Regions from separate parts of the Homo sapiens genome. Here region 2 is linked to region 1. The links come from fine-mapping of genetic effects on gene expression. A gene starts in region 1. The other region holds a variant in brackets. All regions are shown on one strand. Distances are from middle to middle.

Region 1 (2,905 bases):
GTACAAAAAATTAAATAATTATCTGGGCATGGTGGTGCATGCCTGTAGTCCCAGCTATTTGGGAGGCTAAGGCAGGAGGATCGCTTGAGCCCAAGAATTGAAGGCTGCAGTTCACTGAGCACTGCACTTCAGCCTGGGTGACAGAGCAAGACCCTCTCTCTTTAAATAAAAAAAAAAAAAGAAAGAAAAGAAAGAAACATGCTCATAGACTTGGGCATATTGGCTATTGGCTTCGAGGCATAACAAACCCCAGACTGAGAGCTTCTTAATGCTGAGTATGATTCATTATAGCCCTGGTAAGCATTGCAGTTATACCTCTCATCACATTTCATGAACTCAATGCACCAGAACCCTCTTTGTGCCAGGCCTGTGCTGGAGGCTTCAGTTGCACAGGCAAATCAGACACTACCCCTGCCCCCAGAAGCTGCTAAGTGAATGGGGAAGGGATTGTGCTAAGTGTTATGATATAAACAGGGCTGCAGCTTTGTGGCAGCTCTCAGGAAGAGGTGCTTCTCTCAGCCCCATGAAGCAGGCTGGGCCCAGAGAGCAGTAAGGACTTGCCCACATTTAATGACAAAGTGGGGACCATGACCTAGACCTTCTGGATCTTGGCCTCAGACCCACCCTCCAGTTCAGTTTGCCTTTCACAGTCTTCTTCCCACAGTGCCATCCCTGCAGACTCTGTGCCGCCTAGTGATACAAAGGAGCATGGTGCACCGGCTGGCCATTGATGGGCTCCACCTGCCCAAAGAACTTAAGGATTTCTGCAAGTATGAGTGAAGACCCACAGTGCACCAGAGCACAGCTGCATCCTGGAGCCCCAGACCTGTGGCTGGCTGGTCCGAAGTTGGCCACATTGCTGCCAGCCAAGACCAGAAATAAACAGCCGATGCTGACATCTTGATCACTGGAAGGTCTCCTTGCCCCTACAGCCTATGAGAGTCACTTCGTTTAGAATCACTGCAGGTCAGCAGGTCGGAGCAAAAGAGCAGGGGTCCCTAGGCTGGCTGCTTGTTAGAGTCATCTTAGGATATGTAAAGAGTGCTGGTGTCCCACATCCCATCCCTAGGGATTCGTATTTGATTTGTTGGGAAATTAGGCCTAGACATTGTGTTTTGTAAAAGCTTCTCAAGAGATTCTCATGTACAGCCAGGGTTGAGAAGTATGTCCCTAGAAAAAAGGTTCCAACTTTGTCATATATTATAATCACTTGAGGAATTTTGAAAAATACCAATACCTGGCCTGTAATCCCAGCACTTTGGGAGGCCGAGGTGGGCAGATCACTTGAGGTCAGGAGTTTGAGACCAGCCTGGCCAACATGGTGAAACCCTGTCTCTACTAAAAATACAAAAGTTAGCCAGGTGTGGTGGCAGGTTCCTGTAGTCCCAGCTACTCGGGAGGCTGAGGCAGGAGAATTGCATGAACCCAGGAGGCAGAGGTTGCAGTGAGCTGAGGTCTTGCTCCTGCACTCCAGCCTTCCAGTCATGGCGACAAAGTGAGACTCTGTCTCAAAAAAAGAAAAAGAAAAATACCAATACTGGGTCTGACCCGAAGTCTTACTCTACAAGGCACGAAGCACTTGGCTCCTGTGTTTCCATCTCTGGTCATCTGCTTCCATACAAATGATCTCATTTCATCCTCAAAACTCCTAATGAGGTAGTGGGCAGTCATCAGACACACTTTACAGATAAGGATATCAAGGAACAAAACTATCTGGGTGACTCGTTCAAGGTTAGGGCAAGAACCTAGAACACCCAGCTCCTGGTCTGGTGCTCTTTTAACCTCATCCTATTGTCATGTCCAGGTTCTAGAATGAATAGGTCAACGCTGTAAAGTGGATTCCAAGTGTGAAGGGGAGGGTCTATGAGGTGACATTCTAGAAGGGTGAAGAAGGGAGGACAGGCGGCAGATCACTATTCCCTCACAAACCGGGGCTTTGGGGAAGCCATGTCCTACTTCAGGACTCCACAAACTCATCCAGGTCCTCTGCCTTCCGGCCAAGGTGAGCGGGGGGCACCTGCAATTGGAGGGAGTGCGGCAGCTTCCCCTGAGAAGTTGCTTTCTGGCTCTGGGGAGGTGGCGGTTCTGCTGGGCATTTGGGGGCTGGCCCTAGAATCAATTCTTTTAGAAGAAAAGCCATTCCAAACATCCTTGCCAATCAATAACTACCCGCTTGCTCACTATTCATTAATTCAACAAACGCTTCTCCATCACCTACTCCGTGTTGGGGACTGGGAGTGTGGATATGAGTAACACCTAGTTCCCAACCTCTAGACAGTCCGCTGGGGCTGGTCTTAGTTACGCCCCCAAGCTCTGCTCCCATGCCCTGCCCCTCAGGGCCCCCTCCTCAAAGAACTGAGAATAACGTTCCATTTCATTCCTGTCTCTGCAGGTGGGGCTGCTTCTCCAGGCTTGTCCCTTGGCCTCTGTAGTCCTGTAGAGCCAGTGGTGGTGGCCTCTGGTGGAACAGGCCCACTGAGCCAGAAAGCTGAGCAGGTGGCACCTGCTGCCCAGGCCTGGGGCCCAGCCCTGGCAATGCCACAAGCCAGGGGCTGCCCTGGGGGGACTAGCTGGGAGACACTACGGAAGGAATACAGCCGAAACTGCCACAAATTCCCGCATGTGAGGCAGCTGGAGAGCTTGGGCTGGGACAATGGCTACTCCAGAAGCAGAGCCCCTGACCTGGGTGGCCCCAGCAGGCCTAGGCCCCTGATGCTGTGTGGGCTGTCACCACGGGTTCTACCGGTACCCTCTGAGGCAGTGGGGAAGGAGGCCAGCTCCCAGCCTGATATCTGCATCCTCACCCTCGCCATGATGATCGCTGGCATCCCCACCGTGCCCGTCCCAGGAGTTCGGGAAGAGGACCTGATCTGGGCCGCTCAAGCTTTCATGATGGCCCATCCGG
Region 2 (2,905 bases), 39 kb before region 1:
GACAAAATCCCAAACCCTTAATTTGGCCTACAAAACCAGAATTATAATGAGCTACCATGGCAGAATATTTACTATGCACAACGTCAAGCACTTTACACACATTCATTTTATTCATGATCTGGACCTTCAAACCATCTCTTCTTGATCCAGTCCCAGCTACCATGAACTACTTCATAATTTCCCTAAATGTGCCAGGTTCTTTCATGACCCTGATCCTTTGTGTTTTTGTTTATTTCTTTCTTTGTTTTGTTCGTTTTTGAGCCAGAGTCTCCATTTGTATCCAGGCTCACTGTAGCCTTGACCTCCTAGGCTCAAGTGATCCTCTTACCTCAGCCCCCTAAGTAGCTGGGACTGCAGGAGCACACCACCACCACACCTGGCTCATTAAATTTTTTTTTTTTTTGTAGAGACAAGATCTCACTATGTTGCCCAGGCTGGTCTCAAACTCCTAGCCTCAAGGAATATTCCTGCTTCAGCCTCCCAAAGTGTTGGGATTTCAGGCATGAGCCACCGTGTCCAGCTCCTGAGTCTCTGCATATGCTGTTTGCCCTTACTCTTCTTCCCCTCTTGACCTAATTCAGCCTTCGAGTCTTAGCCTAGATGTCGCCTCCACCAGGCAGCCTTCCCTGAACTTCCTTCTACCCCGGCTAGGACAGGTTCCCTCTCTTGTACTACCACAATGGTCTAAGCTCATAATGTTTGTCAATTTTCCTCATCCACTAGGCTGTGCGCTGCTTAAGGGTGGGGCCTGGGGCTTATTCACCCTTGTAACCCCATGCTCAGTACTGTGCCTGACCCTCTGTAAATATTTGATGACCATGAACAGACCACTCTGGGTTGAAGTCTAGGTGGCTTTTTCAGGTAGCCCGTTTATTTATTTATTTTTTGAGACAGGATCTCCCTCTGTCGCACAGGCTGGAATGCAGTGGTGTGATCTTGGCTCACTGTAACCTCTGCCTCCAGGATTCAAGCGATTCTCCTGCCTCAGCCTCCGGAGTAGCTGTGACTAAAGGCACACATCACCAGGCCCAGCTAATTTTTGTGTTTTTAGTAGAGATGGGGGTTTCACCGTGTTGACCAGGCTGGCCTCGAACTCCTGACCTCAAGCAATCTGCCTGCCTCGGCCTCCCAAAGTGGTGGGATTACAGGCGTGAG[GC/C]ACTGTGCCTGGCCAGGTATCCCCGTTTCTATTCCAGGCTCTGGTTTCTGTGGTGGGAACACCAAGGCAGCACCCTGTGGGCTGCCTGCTGTGGCCGAGTCTCTGTCAGTAGCCTGGAGTCTTTTATTCCCAATATAGGGATGAGCAGTTGAGCAAAGATCCTAAGGCTTTCCATTTCTCCAGCTACTTTTCTGAACTAAGAAGCCTGGGTAGACAATAGGTCTGGGCTGAGAGAGGTGGTTGGAATAAGCTGGGCTCCTCTCCCTGGCACCAGGGCCGGCTGCATAGATTTAGAAAGGCCCATGCTTACTGGGTGTGGAGGCTCATGCCTGTAATCCCAGCACTTTGGGATGCCAAAGTGGGAGGATTGCTTGTGGCCAAAAGTTCAAGACCAGCATGTGCAACATAGAACCCCATCTCTACATAAAATAATAATAGTAATAATTAGCTGGGCATAGTAGGTGCTCCTGCAGTCCTAGCTACTTGGGAGGCTGACGCAGGGGGTGATTGCTTGAGTCCAGGAGTTCGAGGCTGTAGTGAGCCATGATTGCACCACTGCACTCTAGACCCTGTCTCAAAAAATAAAAACAAGATGAAAATAAAAATAATAATAAAAAAGAAAAGTCTGTGTTTGGTTTAATGTTCTACTGTCACCATCTTAAAAATCTTAATAATTTTGGAACAAAAGTCCCACGTTTTCATTTTGCCCTGAGCCCTGAATATTGTTTTTTGAGACAGCGTCTTGCTCTGTCACCCAGGCTGGAGTGCAGTGGTGCAATCTCGGCTCGCTGCAACCTCCCCCTCCCAGGTTCAAGCAATTCTCTTGCCTCAGCCTCCCCAGTAGCTGGGACTACAGGCACGTGCCACTGGGTCCAGGTAATTTTTAGATTTTTAGTAGAGATGGGGTTTCACCATGTTGGCAAGTCTGGTCTCACACTCCCAACCTCAGGTGATCCACCCACCTTGGCACCCCAAAGTGATGGGATTACAGGCGTGACCCATCATGTCCGGCCCTAGCCCTGAAAATTATGTCACCACTCCTGGCTGGTCACTAGCTGCCAGGGCCTCTGAGGACCCCTGCCTCAACTCCGGACAAAGCCAAGCCTCCACACTAAAGCAGAAACATAAACAACCAGCTCAGGTTGCCACATAGCTTAACCCCCTTGTTCTCTGCCACTGCAGCAAGAAGCTGCTGAGAGGGAACTTTCATCCCCTGAGGTCCTGGCAGCTGGGGAAGGGAGACTCTAGCTGGATCCCACTCCAGGTTGCCCCCGCCTAGGCTGGGCTTGAGCTGGCCATGGACCCTACACTGCAGTTTAAATTATGCAAAGGGAGTTTCCAAGGCAAGTGGGTCTGGCCCCCGGAAAGCTGTGGAAAGGAGGCTTCCACCCCAAACTGTGGTTCCCACAGGGAGTGGCTCTTGGGCCATTCTGGGACCAGATGAGAGAAGCCATTTAGGCCAAGAATAGATGAGAGGAATGGGGGCGTCTCCCTTGGTCTTCCTGGCCTTGGAAGCGTCTGATGTGGTGTACTATTCCCTCCATTTCTTCCCTTGGCCTGTCCTAGAGTCTTGAGAATAAGCGATAAGTAAGACGGACAGACGGTTTGTCTTAGGGAGCCCACAGAGCAGTGTGGGAGGCAGACATATACATGAACCCTCTGCCACAGGGAGATGAGGGCTCTGGAGGGATGGCAGGGGCTGGGGGTGGTGGGCACACAAAGGAGAAAGCTTCAGAGGAGATGACAATG

What was found. PIP is the estimated chance that this variant, and not a neighbour inherited with it, causes the effect.
Region 2: its variant is fine-mapped to the expression of SPATA25 in visceral fat (GTEx, PIP 0.98).

The regions. Positions count from the first base shown.
Region 1 is chr20:45,886,633-45,889,537 of GRCh38, reverse strand. It overlaps SPATA25 (spermatogenesis associated 25), which reads left to right and starts at 1,916. Exons shown (of 2, transcript NM_080608.4): 1 at 1,916-2,002; 2 at 2,393-2,905. The coding sequence starts at 1,948. It overlaps NEURL2 (neuralized E3 ubiquitin protein ligase 2), which reads left to right. Exons shown (of 2, transcript NM_080749.4): 2 at 665-904. The coding sequence ends at 780. RefSeq lists enhancers at 2,204-2,704, 2,705-2,905.
Region 2 is chr20:45,925,388-45,928,292 of GRCh38, reverse strand. No RefSeq gene overlaps it. Among named protein-coding and RNA genes, the nearest start is that of PCIF1, 7.8 kb to the left of the region's middle. RefSeq lists an enhancer at 689-983. The variant GC/C (reference allele first, on the strand shown) is at 1,156.